2 separate regions of the Homo sapiens genome follow, and region 1 is linked to region 2. A link means that fine-mapping ties the variant in region 2 to the expression of a gene that starts in the linked region. Tissue or cell type: uterus. Region 2 holds a variant in brackets; the other region holds the start of a gene. All regions are shown on one strand. Distances are between the middles of the regions.

Evidence for each region. PIP is the estimated chance that this variant, and not a neighbour inherited with it, causes the effect.
Region 1: ANKRD65-AS1 starts here. The variant in region 2 is fine-mapped to the expression of ANKRD65-AS1 in uterus (GTEx, PIP 0.98).

What each region holds. Positions count from the first base shown.
Region 1 is chr1:1,415,585-1,423,584 of GRCh38, forward strand. ANKRD65-AS1 (ANKRD65 antisense RNA 1) reads left to right here and starts at 4,582. Exons shown (of 2, transcript NR_187360.1): 1 at 4,582-4,980; 2 at 6,885-7,703. It overlaps ANKRD65 (ankyrin repeat domain 65), which reads right to left and starts at 5,692. Exons shown (of 4, transcript NM_001145210.3): 1 at 5,549-5,692; 2 at 5,213-5,421; 3 at 4,468-5,008; 4 at 2,836-3,965. The coding sequence starts at 5,421. The coding sequence ends at 3,516. RefSeq lists enhancers at 2,665-2,744, 2,912-3,361.
Region 2 is chr1:2,310,136-2,318,135 of GRCh38, forward strand. SKI (SKI proto-oncogene) reads left to right here. Exons shown (of 7, transcript NM_003036.4): 7 at 1-78. LOC124903824 (a long non-coding RNA gene) reads left to right here and starts at 4,860. Exons shown (of 4, transcript XR_007065362.1): 1 at 4,860-4,893; 2 at 5,811-5,863; 3 at 6,257-6,876. RefSeq lists enhancers at 3,039-3,692, 5,173-5,926 and silencers at 4,492-4,611, 4,702-4,861, 5,012-5,301. The variant C/A (reference allele first, on the strand shown) is at 4,127.

The sequences.
Region 1 (8,000 bases), 890 kb before region 2:
AAAGACCCATAAGGGGCTTCTCTCGCTTTACGATGTCTTTTTTTTTTTTTCTCCTCTGGTTGATGAAATGCCAGGGTGAAAGGGATAGCCAAACGGACTAAAGCACAAGTGCCACTCTAGTTATTCGGCAGAGTGCCCAGTACAGGTCCACCACAATACCACCACACATCCGCTCACATCCGCTCAGGGATGAACAAGGGCTGACTGATTGATAAGCTCTCGAAAATTCTTAAGCTCACTGCATCCCTTCCAGTCTCCAAGGACTGCTAAGTCTCCTCCCTGCCGTGAGAGACACGAAGGGAACTTAGTTTTGGGAGACGGAAGCTGGATGGCCCTCGGGGGCTGACCCGCAGGGACTGCAGAATGTAGCGGGGAGAGCTTGGCATGACTTGCTGCTCCAGGCTGTAGAATCCTGGAAAAGAGCTACCGTGCAGCCCACGCCTGGTCGACTGAAGGACCACCTTAGTGGAAGGGGGACAATCAGAGCCTTTGGCCTGCCATGTGCACGAGCATCACAATTGCTTTTGTTTAACATCAGATGGAATATCTGATCCATTTCAACCAGGCATTTTGCATCTTGGTATGCTGTCTTAATTGCCAAAGTTTGTTTTAAGTCTTAAACTTCCATGATCCTCTAGTAAAATGAATGTTTCCTTTAGCACCTATTTTTATTAGTTTTTAGACCAAAGAAAGCTAAACACCATTTTATATTTAATAATGCTTCTTGTATGATTTTTATACCAGATAAGCTAAATTTTACCTTTATATTAGTGTGTTATTAATGTTAAACTTAATTTTAATAAAACCTTGTAGACATATTTATCCAATTTTTCATGTTTGACCATAAGGTAAGATTTTATAGACTCTTTTTAACCTTTTATAACTTTTGTTAAAGAGCAGGTTGATGCTTTAAGAAAAACCTGTTGCATTTTTACTTTAATGTCCAGTTCACAGAAAAACTGGACGATACCTTTTTAACTTTAGTTAACATGTTTACACACAGAATTTTCTTTACAATTTACATTTTAAAACTTGCTTAAACTCTTAAAAACAATAATTTTTTTAACCTTTTAATGTAGGTAAAAATCCATATTTTTATGCCCCTTTATAATTTTTTTTACCAAAGGTATATTTTACTTTTCTTGTACACCTTGCACATAAACTTTTTTTTTTAATAGTACTCAGGGGCCAGGCGCGGTGGCTCACGCCTGTAATCCCAGCACTTTGGGGGGCCGAGGCGGGCGGATCACGCGGTCAGGAGATCGAGACCATCTTGGCTAACACGGTGAAACCCCGTCTCTACTAAAAATACAAAAAATTAGCCAGGCGTGGTGGCGGGCGCCTGTAGTCCCAGCTACTCGGGAGGCTGAGGCAGGAGAATGGCGTGAACCCGGGAGGCGGAGCTTGCAGTGAGCCGAGATCACGCCACTGCACTCCAGCCTGGGCAACAGAGTGAGACTCCGTCTCAAAAAAAAAAAAAAAAAAAATAGTACTCAGGAGGCCTTATTACTTTTAAATTATACAACATTTTTTGCATAAATTTTTTATAACATTTTGTTTTACAACTTTCGCCGACAATTCTTCAACATATCTCAACTTTCTGCCTTATTACAAACTTTTAAACAACCAGTTAATATATTTCAGGACAAGAATTTACCGTATAACATGCTTTTCACATAAATTCAGCCTCCCCTTTTTTTTTCTTTTTTAAAGCGAACTTTTTTTATGTCTTTGGACTAGACTGTCTGAGGCCACAAGATTAAAAGTTACCATTAACATGTTACACTGTTAACTTTTAGCAAACTTCGCTTTTGTTGAAAACCTTGGAAGTTTGGGATTTCAATTATCCTTTGCTATTAATAAGACCTTGTTTAGTCTAAATTAACTTAGAATTGGTATAGATGGCCTCTTTTTCTCTCTGCTGGTCTTTCCTTGCCTCTGCCAGCCGCTTATGCTGCTGTTCTCTTAACTACCGTAGGGGGGAGGGGGTCTAAAACCTGCTCTAACTGTCCATGTACGGAAACTGGCCTGGGTGCCTTGGCTTACACGTTACCTTGTGTCATACCTTTGAAACAAGGGACCTGTCCAGGCTTCCTTCTGATGGCCAACCCACCTCTAATGCTGACAAGTCTATTTCACACAAAGTTGTAAGTTTTCCTGGTGTCAGAGTAACACCGTAATCTCCCTTAAATTCTTTCTTGAAAAATTTTTTTTAACATAGTTCCTAGTGGGGTGGGCTTATCTGTGCCTGACCCACGCTTCTTCAAGACAAAACACCACGCTCACACCACAAAACAAAAAACAGGTAAAAAGGGCACACACACACTTTTGCAGTTTACACCAAACCAAAATCAAAACCAAAATCAGAGTATCCAGAAATCCAAGCCAGGTCAAAACCAAAACCAAAGTATCACATGATCTCAGTCAAGTCAAAACCAGAACAAAGGTGCTAATGCAGGCACGCCGTGGGCGATCAGGCCACGCGTCTACTCAGGTGGAGTGGGGCAAGTTCCAAAGACTAGTCTTACCAGGTTTCAGATGTCCGGACTCCAAGTGCCAGTTCCTTCCCGGTGTTCAGCCACTGTGTTAATCCACCATGGGGGCCCGTTATGGGCTGCTCTGGCGAGGTGTTCCACCGAGGCAATTTCCTACCCGGGAGCGCTCTTTAGCTCACGTCACTCAGGCTGGCCGGAGTCCCCCGCAGGGATGCTCCACGGGGCAGGCCTAAGCCGCCTAAGGGGCTGCCTCGGTCGTCTGTCAGTTACCTCGTTTCCCAGTCAGGGAACCAAGAAATGTAGCAGGACGAGCCGCAGACAAAACCTCTCAGACACCCAGTTGTAGAAGGAAGGGCTTTATTCAGCTGGGAGCATCGGCAAGCTACTGCCTTAAAATCCGAGCTCCCCAAGTGCACAATTTCTGTCCCTTTTAAGGGCTCACAACACCGAAGATTTCACATGAAAGGGTCGTCATTGATTTGAGCAAGCAGGCGGTACGTGACAGGGGCTGCATGCACCGGCGGTCAGAGAGAAACAGAACACGGCAGGGAGTTTCACAAATGTTCTTCTATACAATGTCTGGAATCTATGAATAACATCGGTTTCTAAGTTATGAATTGATTTTCAACTACTGGGTTTAGGCCAGGCAGGCGCAGGCCTGGTTTCGGGCCTAGCGCCAGGCTGCCTGCCTGTCTTTGGTTTTACTTCCTTGTTGTTTTTTCTTAAAACAGGTACTGAGTATAAAACACTATGAGAGGGTCTCTCTTCCCTCATTGCCACAACTCATTCTTTGTTGAAGTATGGAGAAGGCTGGAGCTGCAGGGTCAGTGGGCCCTCCTGGGAGCTGGGGGCCATCCCTGGTCCAGCCAAGGCCTGTGACTGCAGCTCAAGCCACATCCCCTACTTTCTCCCATCCCCTCCTCCGGAAGCCTCTTCCCTGATGTCCCCTCCAGGCAGGCAGCCTCAGCCAGAGAGCCTGGAAATCACTGGGGCGGTGGAGCCTGGAGCCTGCTGTCTGGCTCAGCCCGTGGACTCTATGCCCTCACACTCCTTCTCCCCCCCTCCAAGTTCAGGCAGCGCCTGGGGCAGGTCCCCCTCAGGCATCTGGGCCACCTCGGCCCACTGCGTCCGCAGAGTGGGGCTGGCCCCTCGGCTCAGCAGAAGCCCCACGGTAGGCCCATGCCCTCGCTCTGCAGCCAGGTGTAGGGGGGTCTTTCGGAGCCAGCCGGTAGCATCCACCTGGGCACCCCTGTCCAGCAGGCAGCCGGCAACCTCCACGTGGCCTTCCCGAGAGGCGTGATGCAGGGGTGTGAGGCCCAGGGTGTCCCGCGCATCCACCTCGGCCCCCTGGGTGACCAGCAACTGGACGGCAAGCAGGTGTCCTCGGGCGGCAGCCCTGTGCAGCGCAGAGCGGCCATGCCTGTCCCTGATGCCTGGGTCTGCCCCGTGGCCCAGCAGCACCTCAATGTCCTAGAAGAGGAGAGAAAAGCAGGGGCCGGCCTCAGCCCGGTAGGCGAGGGGCAGAGCCACCAGGCGTTTGCCCAGCCCAGGCCTCTTCTGTCCCCGCAGCGGCCTGTCTCTCCTGACACCACTTCCTCATGTTGTGAGGCCGAACCCAAGGCTGGCCTGCTTGGAAACGTCCACTTTTCCCCCTAAGAGTCCTTAGAGCAAATCCAAGGATCTGCAGCCAACACCCTGCCCGCTGCCCAGGAACGGGGGTCTCAGGCACAGGCCCGGCGCTGGCGGAGAGTCTGTTGCTGCCACCAGCATGAAGCCGAGCCCCGGGCCTCGGATCCCGCCCTGGTCTCCACGGGACGGGGCTACACCGGAGGGGCACAGCCGGGGGCGCGCTCAGGGCCTTCGTGCCTGGACACCGTCCCCCAGCCTGGCTCCAGCTGCCCCGGTGGCACGTCTCTGGGGATCCTGGCCCTGCGCCCCCTCCCATCACTGCCGGGCGGAGGGCGGGACGTACCTGGGAGCGGCCTAGGGCGGCCGCCAGACCCAGCGCTGTGGCCCCCGCGCCATCCCGGGCGTCCACCCGCGCCCCGCGCGCCAGGAGGAAGCGCAGCGCCGCCCCGCGCCCCGCAGCGGCAGCCACGAGCAGGGCGCCGTCCAGGCCCGCGCCGCCGGCCGCCAGCAGCTCCAGCACCGCCAGCCGCCCGCCCGCGGCCGCCCAGTGCGCCGCCGTCCAGCCGCGCGCGTCCTCCGCCTCCGCTGCCGCGGGTCCCGGGCCCGGAGCCTCCAGCAGGCGCGCGGCCAGCAGCGTGTGGCCCAGGGCAGCGGCCCAGTGCAGCGGCGTGAGGCCCGTCCCGGAGCGAGCCGCCGCCGAGGCCCCGCGCTGCAGCAGCAGCTCGGCCACCCGCGAGTGTCCGTGCCAGGCGGCCTCGTGCAGCGCGGTGCGCCCCGCCCGGTCCACCGCGCCCACCGGGGCCCCTCGCTGCAGCAGGAGACGCACCAGGGGCGCGTGGCCCCGCAGCACGGCCAGGTGGAGCGGGGTCCGGCCTGCGTGGTCCCTGAGGAGGGGGCAAGGGCGTCGGCGCGGGGGTGGACCACTGACCAGAACCCCGCCCTGCCCCACCCCGTCCTGCCGCCCACCCAGCGCTGGGACCCCCGTCCTACCCCATCCAGAGAAGGGACTCCTCCACCCACCCAGTGCTGGGACCCCCATCCTGCCCCACCCAGAGAAGGGACCCCTTCACCCCCCAGCGCAGGTGCACCTCTCCTCCACGCTGGCACCTTGCCGCAGCAGCTGCGTCACCAGGCCTGCAGGGCCCCTCCACACGGCCTGGAGCAGGTGCCCCCAGCCCTGGACAACACTAGGCCCCTCTGTCCTGGTTCCCAGGGCCTCTTCGGAGTCCAGCTCCATCCACCGCAGTTCCTGTTCCTCCTCCTCCTCCTCTCTGGGCTCAGGCCTCTGGGAGTCCATCTGGGGGGGAGCAGGGATCCTACATCCACTGTGGAGGCCTCTGGCCTGCCCCCAGCCGTGTCCCAGGCCAACTGGAGCCCCCCATTCCAGTTACCACTTAGCCTTCAGAGGGGCTTGGCTCTGTTACCCAAGGGAGCTGGCTCAGGAGCTTTCTGCTCTGGCTGAGGGTCCTCTGTAGACGGGTTCTGGCCGAGGCTCAGCCTGGTGACCCTCTTCACAAAATCCCTTCTGCAGGCTTTGGGGTGGAGTGTCTGCTGCTGAAAAGCTGAATGGTGGCAGCTTCAGCCTTGCAGGGGGTGGGAGAACACAGCTGGTCCCCTGGGCCAGGCTGAGGCCACCTGACGCTGTTTACTCAGCCACTTAGGAAGGCCCTGCCTTCGGGCACAGCCCCCTGTCCAACATACTCCCTCCCCTGCTGGCTGCCAGGGCCCCAGTTCGGCTGCCCTCCTGGGGAACAAAGGCCAGGCGGTTGGGGAGGACAAGCAGGAACATGCTTGTGGACGAAAGTTGCTCAGACGCCACCTCCCCCAGGAAGCGCAGCCTTGGATGTACCCCGATGTGCCCCTGGAAGGCCTCACAGGGCTCTCCATGGGGCCCACCCTCGGGCAGCCCCCTCACCCACTCCTGTCCCAGCTGGCTAAGCCCACCCAGGGGTGGGTGCCGGCCCCTCCTCCCGATTCCAGGCTGGGGAGGAGGGCAGGGTGAGGTTCTGGCCTTCCTTTCTGTAAATGCTGGACAGGACAAAAGATTCACCAAGGACTCCAGGCAGGTGGCCTGGAAAAGAGGGTGGCGCTGGCATGGGAGGGACGAAAACCCTTTGGGGACTGGCTGGGGCAAGTCTGGAGCCAGGGAAGGGACAGATGCCTGGGCAGGTGGGGGCGGGGGTCGGGGGGCAGGCGGGAGAGTGGGGAGAATCCCTGCTAGGGTGCGTCTGCATCTGGAAAAGCAGCTCTGCCCCAGCAAGGCCTGGGGCAGCGGGATCCTGGGGGCCTGGGGCAGGATGGGTGGGGCTGGTGCTGAGGGCATCTTCCTGTCTCCCAGTACCTGGGGCCAGGCAGGAGAAGGGAGCATGGCTCTTTGGGGTGGCTGCAGCAGCCTGGCCCCTCCAGCGGCTGCACGGGAAAGGTAATGAGGGCTACCCATTCCCACCCCAGCCCCCTTCAGCCTCCCAGGTCCCCAAGGACAGGGTCTCCTGAGGGCCCTGGTCTGGCCTCCCCCACTCCCTAGAGGACTGCCTCTCCAAGGGCCCAAGGGACCAGGGGCCCCATCCCACCACCCCCCAAGCCACACAGACCCTGCCCTACAAACCTCATCAGGCTACTCATCCGTCACCTTCCCAGATCCTGACCACAGGTGGATCTGAGGCAACGTGCGACTCTAACCCTGTTTTAGTTTGTTCTTAGCATTTATCACTACAGGAAAGTATCTATGTGTTTATTTAAATGTCTGCCTTCCTCTTCTAGAAGGAAAGCTCCGTAAGGCTGACCGGGAAAGAAGCGAGGAGCTCTGGGGGCTGGGTGGAAAGTCCCGTACTCATCAGGGCCAGGGAGGCCACAGAAACTACCTCACGCCAGCTTCCCAGGGGTACAGCGGCTAGAATGGACCTCGAGGAGGCCCCTCCCAAGACTCCCGTCTCCCGGGTTCCACCGCAGTGGGGGCAGCCACAGCTGCCTCTGCAATGCTTGTAGGACCCACACACAGTGGGGCACGGAGGGGCAGAGGCCGCAGCCCCTTTGCCATGAATCCAAAGAACCTGGAGTGATTCTGCAGAGACGTTCGAACCAGAGCGACTCCATCTTGAACAGGGGCTGGGTAAAATGAGGCCGAGACCGGCTGGGCCGCATTCCCTGGAGGTCAGGCATTCTTAGTCACAGGATGAGATCAGCACAAGATACAGATCACAAAGACCCCGCTGATAAAACAGGATGCCGTGAAGAAGCCGGCCCCAAACCACCAAAACCAAGACAGCCAGTCCTCACTGCTCATTATGTGCTGATTATAATACATTAGCATGAGACACGCCCACCAGCACCAGGACCATTTACAGTTGCCATGGCAATGCCGGGAAGTTACCCTAGATGGTCTAAAAGGGGGAAGAACCCTCACTTCCGGGAATTGCCTGCCCCTTTCCCGGAAAAGTCCGGAATAATCCACACCATGTTTAGTACATATCAAGAAACAACAATAAGTGTTCTCGTCGGAGTAGCCCAGGCCGCTGCTCAGCCTATGGGGCAGCCCTTCTCTTATTCCTTTACTTTCCTATTAAACTTGCTTTCAGTTTACTCCGTGGACTCCCCCGAATTCTTCCTTGTGTGGGGTCCAAGAACCCTCTCTCGGGGTCTGGATCGGGACCTCCTTTTCCGATGACAGTCCCTGGGACTTAGTAGCAGTTCAGCAGTGTTTGTTGAATGAATAAGCGAGAGACCTGGTTGGGGGGCACTTAGAAAGCAGAGGTTTTGCAACTTTTTAAAACTTTTTATTTGTATTTTTGAGACGGAGTCTCACTCTGTCACTCAGGCTGGAGTGCAGTGGTGTGATCTCAGCTCACTTGGAACCACCATCTGCCAGTTTCAAGTGAT
Region 2 (8,000 bases):
TCTATTTCGCTGTGTACCTGTTAGTCCTTCCCCGACCCCGAAACAGATGACATTGTACAATAAAGGACTTTGAGAGGACCGCGGGACAGCTGTGCGTGCGCCCACCACAGCCCCTCCCCAGACCGGCCACACACGGGCGGCTGGGACCCCCTCGCTTTCAGGCCATCGTGGGTGGGGGTGCTGTCACAGGTCAGATTGTGGGCCTCGGAGTCTCCGTCGACCCCGAGGGCACGTGGGGTCCAGGCGGCCGCCCTGGCACAACTGCCCTCTCACCTAGTCCCCGTCCCCTCTGAGCTGGGCAAGGCCACGGTTTCCTCTGCGATTCAGGGAGCTTGCAGTCCCTGCTTGTAGCACTGGATGTGGCTGGAGCCCTGGCTTGAGGCCACCGTGGCCTTGGGCCGGCTGGGAGGAAGCCCCACAGAGTGCAGTGCCAGGACAGAAGATGGGATGGGGCCTTCCCGGCTGGGCCTCCACGGGGGCCTCTGAGGCCGCACCTGCGGTTGGCCAAGGTCCAGCTCCCGCACGGACAGACCTGTCCCCAAGGGGTGGATCGCCAGCTCCCTGAGGAGCTCCTGGGTTACTTGCGGGGGAGAGGGGAGGTGGCATCAGAACCCTGGACCCCAGCGAGCTGCCCCGAGGGAGACACAGAGGTCCCTTCTCCCCACCTGACCTCACAGGGGGGCCTTCCCAGACCCCTGTTCTGGGGATTGGAGGTGCCATGCCGCATGCCAATTTCATGGAGGCACAGCCCCGGGTGGGCTCCCTGGGGTGCCAGGCCACCACCTCTCTAGGCTTCCTTAGGCCATCACATCCAGCATCTCCAGCCCATCCAGGCCCTCATAGGTCATCTGGGTTGTGGTCCGAGAAAGGCATGGGCTGGTAGGGGCTCCAGCCGGCCCCTCCCCCCAGCCTCCCGGCACAATTTCCAGGTCCCCATCTCTTCTCTCCACCCCTCGGGAAGTGCCCCCAAGCTTGGGGCTAGAGCAGACCTGGCCCTCCCCTCACTGCCACATAGGGGCTTCCTTCTTCCCTGCCCAGGGCCCCAAAGGGCTCATAGAGCCCCCACGGAGGGTACAGGGCGGCCTCTAGACCACACAGGCCTACCCCAGCAGGCCTCAAAACACCCACTCCACATGGGCCTGGCTTCTCCATCCAGGCTAGGCCCCTGGGTGTTGGGGGCAGTGGGCAGGGGCGTGGGCCGAGGGGAACATGGGCCACAGCAGGAGTGGGTGTGGACTGGTCCTGGGCACGTGCATGTTCTGGGGGGCAGAGGATGGGCGGCTCCAGAGTGCCGCTGGCAGGACCCTGAGACTGAGTCAGTTGTGAGCACAGAGGACCAGCCCGGGGTCCAGTGCAGTGGGGAGGAGTTGGGGAAGGGCTGGGCCGAGGTCCTGGGTGGGCCTCGAGGACCGTCCCTGTGGCCACATGGGCACTCTGCCTCGGAGCTGAGCACCGCAGGGCTTGATGACGGCCCTCCCGACCCTCCCGGAGACTCAAAGGCACTGCCTCCAGCAGCCACGTGGGGGCAGGGAGGGGCGGTGCTCTGGGCTCAGTTGTTCCCCAAGCTGCCCCAGGCTTCTCTTTGGTGTTTACCTTTGGGTATAAACTTAGAGCTTTAAAGGGCTCTGGCCACCTGCTGAGCTAGGCCAGCCGTCACCCAGGGTCAGAACCCTCTTCCCAAAGCTGTTCCGAAGGGATCCAGGGGTCTCCTGAGTGCTGGGGGAGAGGAGGCCTGGGTGGGAGAAGCTCCCTGCCTCCATGCCAGGGGAGGGCAGAGGTGGGGGGAGAGAGATGGCCCTCCCCACCCTACCTCTGCATCCTCAGGCTCAGGACTCCCAGCATTCACACCTGCCTGGGCCTCTGCAGGGACCACGGGTTAGCCCTCCAGCCTCAGCTCCCTGGAAGGGCAGCTCCCAGTACCCCTGTTCCTGGCAGTGCCTGTTCCCAAGCCCCCAAGAGCTGGGGTCTGGGGAAGATGAGCTCAGGGAAGGGGATGGGGGCTCCCCCACCTCCCTAGTTTCTGCCCCACCCTGTGCCCCACCCATTTCTGCCTCAGTCACCAACAGCTGTCCTTAGGTCTCAGCTGTGCTGGTCTCCCCCTCCTCCTGGAGCCACAGTCCTGCCAGCCTTCACCCACCAGCCTGTGGTCAAGGGGGCCGACAACGGCTGAGCAGCCTGACCTTGTCTGGGGAGGCAGCGGCCAGCACGTCCTAGGTGGGGAGTGGAGACTGCTGACCAGTTACTGCAGCCACTGGTTCAGCCCCGCGTGTCCGGCCCCAGCCCTAAGCCTAAGCAGGGACCCGGCTCCTCCCTCACTTCACCCCCAACCCGCCCTCCTGCCCCAGCGCAGTGCTCCAAGGGCATGGCCAGGGGCCCCCAAGCTGGACACCCCCTCATGGCTGCATGAGGGGCTCTACCCATTGCCCCAGCCCACAGGCCCAGACCCCGACCCCATCCTGGCCCAGGCCTGGCCACCCCCACGTCCCAGCACCTGCTTTGACTCCCCCACTTCCTTCTGGCCAGGAAGAGGCAGCCCCCACCCACTCTGTTCTCGTAGCCTCTGCACAGCTGCTGGTCCTGCTCCAGGCGACCCGGCCTCTGACCCCACGGAGCCTCCGCTGGAAGGAGGTGCGGAGCCCACAGGGACACCCCCAGGCCAGGGCCGCCTGCCCTCCAGAAATGATGGGGTCGTGACCCTGATGTGTTGGCCCCGGGGGGGTCCCGACCCTCCCCACAGAAACTGCCCTGTCTACTCCACCCACAGCGGACCCTGGGGAGGGGGTGAGGACAGAACATTTGGGGACTGGATGCCCGCCCAGCCCTGCCACCCCCCGGTCTCAGTGACGCACATGGCCATCTGTGCCTGGCCTGTGCCAGGTGGGTGGGGGCCTCAATGGCTGGGGCACCCAGCCCTGGAGCAGGTGGCCCCGCTGCGGGTGAGGACCGGCAGGGGCAGCCTGGCCAGCCTGGCTTGTCTTTGCAGTGTCCTGTGCTGGGCCAGGTGTCCAGCCGGGCTGGGAACGGACCTTTCTCTCCCATGGCCGGGCCTGGCAGCTCTTACTGGCAAGAAGTGCAGCCCAGGCTCGGCCTCCATGGCTCCTCCTGCAAAGGAGGCCTGTTCCAGAAACTTCCAGGGACAGGGAACCGTGGGGAGGTGGGGAGGTAGGGGCTGGAGGCAGGGGCTCCCTGGGTCAGCCCAGGCAGCAGTGTCTCCCAGTCTCCTGCCCCTCCCCGCAGCTGTCCCAAGGACACTCTTAGGTATAGGGGTGCCAAGTGCCCAGGCCCCGTGGAGATACAACTGGCTGGCTTGGAAGGGTGGGCTCCTGGCTGCCCAGCTCAGCCCAGAAACCAGGATTGGGTGCCATCCAGATCTAGAACGAGAGACCAGGGGTGTGGAGGGTCGAGGGCCGTCTAGAGGCCTTGGTGGGGGCCGGGCAGGCCACCAGCCCCGAACCCTGGAGGGTCCCGTGTACCCTGGCCAGTGCCAGCTGCTGCCCCCCTGGCCTGGCCCTGCCAGATTCTCCCTGACAGCCCTGTCCCCCTCTCTGCTGTCGGAACCTTCTGGCCCTTCCTGCAAGGTGGGCCTGGCCAGGCTGGGGTCTTGGTGGAGGGCAAGCAGGAACCAGGGACAGACGATGGAGCTCTGCGTGTCCTCCCTCATGGAGATGCCCCCAGCTGGGTGAAATGACCCTGGTCGGTGCTATGCCCAGGTTAGGCCAGGCTACCAGTTGCAGATGGACACCGCCCTGCGCCCTGCTGTGCCCACCCTGGGGCAGGAGCTGGGCAAGGTACTGTGTGCCCTGTGGTCCAGCCCCACTCTGCCCTGCCCCTGGTGGGGCCTGCACCCGAGGGACGTGATGCCCATGCCCCAGCTTCCTGTTTCTAAGGAAAAACAGTCCTAGGAAAAAGGCTGTAGCGTCGGAGGAGCTGCCCTCGCCAGGGCCTGGGGGGATTGTGGGTGGGGAGGCTGTCCCATTCTGTGATCCCAGGGATGCCAGGAGGGCCGTGGCTGGTGTGGCCGGCACTGGGTCAGGTTTAGGCCGGGGTCTCTCGGGTCTCGGTGTTGGCCCCTCCGTGTTTAGAATCCTCCCAGGCCAAACCAAGGCGGCCTCCAGGGTCACTCCTG[C/A]ACAGGACAGTGGCCGGAACTCCGAAATGACCACCGACCTGCGCTGGCCGCTGAGGGTCCGACAGACCAAGGCTCTGGGCCCCCTACCCCATCCTGCGCCCCGTGCGCGAAGTCTGCGGGGTCACTGCTGCGCAGGACAGAAAACCCGCAGTGGGGCCCCGGCCTGTCCCCGGCCCTGGCGCTGTCCTGGCATCCGGGGAAATCCTGTTTCTGGCTCCAGGCCAGGGCCTGCCCCTCACCCTGGAGAGGCCCCGTCGGAGGCCGGCCTCGCGGGGGAAGGGCGGTGGCGGAGGAACTACCCAGGAATTCCAGCGCCGGCTCCGAAACCTTCCCAATCCCGCTCCTTCGCCCGGGCCGGAAGCCGCGCTGGGGGGGTGGGGAGGGGTGCACGTCCCGGGCCCCGCGCCGCGTCCTCAGGGCCGGGGCGGCCTCCCCGACGCCCGTTCCGTTCCCAGTCCGGGGGCACTGGGGGCCCCGAGTCAGGCGGAGCGCGCCGGGCCCCACTTCCCCACGCGGAGGGGCAGCCCCGCAGCCTCAGGCTCCCCCCCGCAGCCTCAGTTTCCCCCCCGCCCCCGCCGCCTCTTCCGCTACCCCACCCTCCCTGCCGTCCGGGGCGGCGCCCCCCAGATTCGCGGCCAGCGCTGGATTCCGGCGGGGTGGGGCGGGGGCTTCCGGCCCGGGGGCGGCTGGTCCGAGCAGCAGGCCCGGGCTGGGGGGCGGGACGGGAGGCCCTGGGAGCTTCCTGCAGCGTGGGGGCGGCTCCCGAGGTGGGAATTCCGCCCCCGAACCGGCGGGCTACGTGCGGGGGTCTCAGAGGCTGCGGCTCCTCCCGTCGGTGGGCGCGGCCGCCCCCAGAGGCCGCTGCGGGAAGCAGGGCGGCGGCAGGAAGCGCCCCCCCCGTTCCCCCTTCCCCCCCGTACCCCTCTTCCCCCGCTCGTCCCCCCTTCCCCACCCCAGGCCCCGCGGAGGCGGCGCGCGTTTCACGGGTTTCGCCGCCCGCGGCACGGTGGGGGCGGGGGCGGGGGCGGGGGCGGCGGTGCGACCCCCAGCGGTGGAAGCGGGAACTGCAGCTCGGCCGAGCTCGGGGTTGGGGGGTCCCTGCCAACCCTGCCCTCCCGGAAGGTCCCAGCCTGGCGGGTTCGGGTGCTTTTCTCTCTGGGGCGCGGCCTCCCTGTTCTGCTCAGTTGGGGGTCCGTTCCCGGGAAGAACCACCACACCCCCCATCCCGGCCCGCAGGCCCCAGCCGCCAAGTCGTTGCTGGGGAGGTGGGCGCAGGCCGCCCTCTCTCCGTGAGCCCACTCGCCACAACCCGCAGGGACCTGGGGGACTCGGTGGATCCAACCACAGGAGACCATGAGACACAGGCGGTCTCGCCGAGGCCTGCCGCTTAGAGCTGTCTCTCCTCCTCACGGGCCCCCTGGCTCCCTGCAGGCCTGGCCTCCTATCTCCCTCAGGCCATCAGCCCAGGGACCCCCAGCCCAGGCACCCCACCCATGCTCTGAGCTGTGGGCCTGAAACCCGCCCTCCTAGCAGGGAGCCTGGCTGCGCCCCAGGCCGCTTCTGCTTGGAGCTCCGTGGAAGGAAATGCCCTCAGGTTCCCAGGCACTGAGCCTCCCCTCCCGCTAACCCCATCAGGGGTATAGCAGCCCCGTGGTGCTCAGCCTGCCTCTCTCTGCCTGGGCAGGACCGTGGAGCCCATGCGTGTCCTCTCTCCTGTCCCCAGATGGAAGCCGGCAGGTGGGGCCCTAGCAGGGGACATGCTCGACGTGTGGGTGGATGAGGACCCAGTGGGGTCAGGTCTGGGGCAGCGGGACAGGGTCTCCAGGACGGGGCCTGGCTGCAGATAGGCCGGAGAACGGCTGCTGGTTCCCTGAGGCCACTGGGGAGCCAAGATGCAGTCCCCGAGGGGTTTCCAGGGAGCAGCCACTGGGCTGGGCAGCTGGGCGCAGGGGCAGAGAGAGCTGGGGCTGAGTCCTGGCCTGCCCCCTGGGGACTCCTGGGCTGTAAGGCAGGGGTGGGCAGGGCCTGGACCCTTGTTGGGGGGCCCTCCCTGGCTGTGGTCCACCTCAGGAGCCAAGGAGGCTGGGGGGCTGGTGTGGGCAGCTACCTCTGTTCCCCACGGGTCCTCAGGAAGGCGGCGCCACAGACTGAGGAGGCCCTGCTGGCCCTGGAGCTGTGTTCGGAGCCCCCACAGCCTGGCTCCTGGCTCTGGTTGCCGTGGGCGGGAGGTGGAAGTACAAGGAGAAGGAGTGTCCAGCATTTTCACGAGTGCCACCGCCAGAGGTCAAGCTGAGGACAAGAGGGCAGCCAGGCACCACCCTGGCCCCAGGCAGACTCCCCAGGGCTCGCTGAAGGGCCGGCAGCCCTGGGCCTGGCAGCTCCCCTTGCAAGCCCCAGCTGGGGGCTCTGTCATCCGGGAGGCCCTGGGCCTGACCTTCGCCGGCTGCCCCTGGGCCTGGAGGCAGGACACGAAGGGGCTGATGGGTCTGTGGTCAGCCCCGAGCGCACTTTGCTGAGCTGTGGTCTTGCTGAGCCAGCCCACAGGCCCAGCGACTCCTGGCTTACTCAGCCCAGGCCTGAGGCTCCCAGGGAAGGCCAGGCCAGGCTGTGCAGGAACCTGCCTATGGGGCTGGGCACCTGGCCCTCCAGGAAGGCCTGCCTGCGAGGAGCTGCTCTGCACAGGGGTCTCGACCCTCCGCTAGGCACCAGGAGCGAAGAGGGAGAGGCTTTGGGAAGGAGACACAGGTCAGGTGGGTCCTGTCTGGTTCCCGGCTGTGGCCTGGCTACGCTGTCCTCTGCTAATGCCAAAGGGGCCTGGGCATGGTCTGGAGGGTGTCCTGGCTGAGGCCCTGCTGAAGGGGTGAGGCAGGCATCCCCCCCCATCCCCACCCCGTCTCTCTACCTCTCTGTGTGTCTCTCTCTGACTCTCTCTGTGTCTGCCTCTCTCTGTGTATCTCTGTCTTTCTCTGGCTCACAGACTCCATCTTCCATGGCAGCAACTGGCTTGATGCTCTCTTTCGGTGTCATCTTCGCTTGGTAACCATGGGTGGGAGGAAAGGAGGAATGGCCACTGCTCCCTTGTTTGGAGGTCAAAGGAACAGGAGGGGCACAGGGAGGTAGGAGGGGCACAGGGAGGTGGGCGGAGCTGGGACCTGGAGCTCTCCCCAGGACTCTTCCTGGGGCAGGAGAAGGGGCTGGCTGGGGTTGGGGGCTCCACCTCCAACACACTGTGTTTGTGAGCTTGCCAGAGAGCCGCCACCTGGTCCCTGGCCTCAGGTTCCCAGGGGTGGCACCAGTAGGCCGTGGCCTGCAGGCCAGAGGCAGACACAGCCCCTACCATGCCCACCAGGTCCGGAGGAGCCCAGCAGAGCCCCTGCCCAGCCTGGGAGGAGGCCTCAGCCCAGCTCATGTCCCGCTGTGTTGGCAGTCAGACGGTCACGTGGCATGGCCACCCTGGCCCCAAAGCCGGTGTGTTTCCACCTCCAGCACCAAGAGCTGCCCGCCCTCCCCCTGACACGCAGAGGAGGCCCGGGAAGCCTGGGAGACCATGGCTGCCGTGGGCGGGGCTGGTGGCCGTCACCACTTGCTCCAGGCCTTTGGGACCACATCTGTCCCCGGCCCGCGCCCTCAGCGCAGGGACGCTGCTCGGCGGCAGCAAGTCTGTCCACTCACTGAGGCCCCAGTGCCGGGTGTGAGGCTGCTGCCCGGGAATCAGCGCCCAGTCCCGGACGCAGGCCCAGTGAGCAGGGGCAGGCGAGCCGAGGTCAGCCCACGGGCCCCCATCCTTCCACTTGACCCCGTCCCGGGCTCGGCACTCAGGGACTGGTTCTGGCCTGCGTGGGGCAGGCGATGGGAAAGGATCTTTCACAGGGGG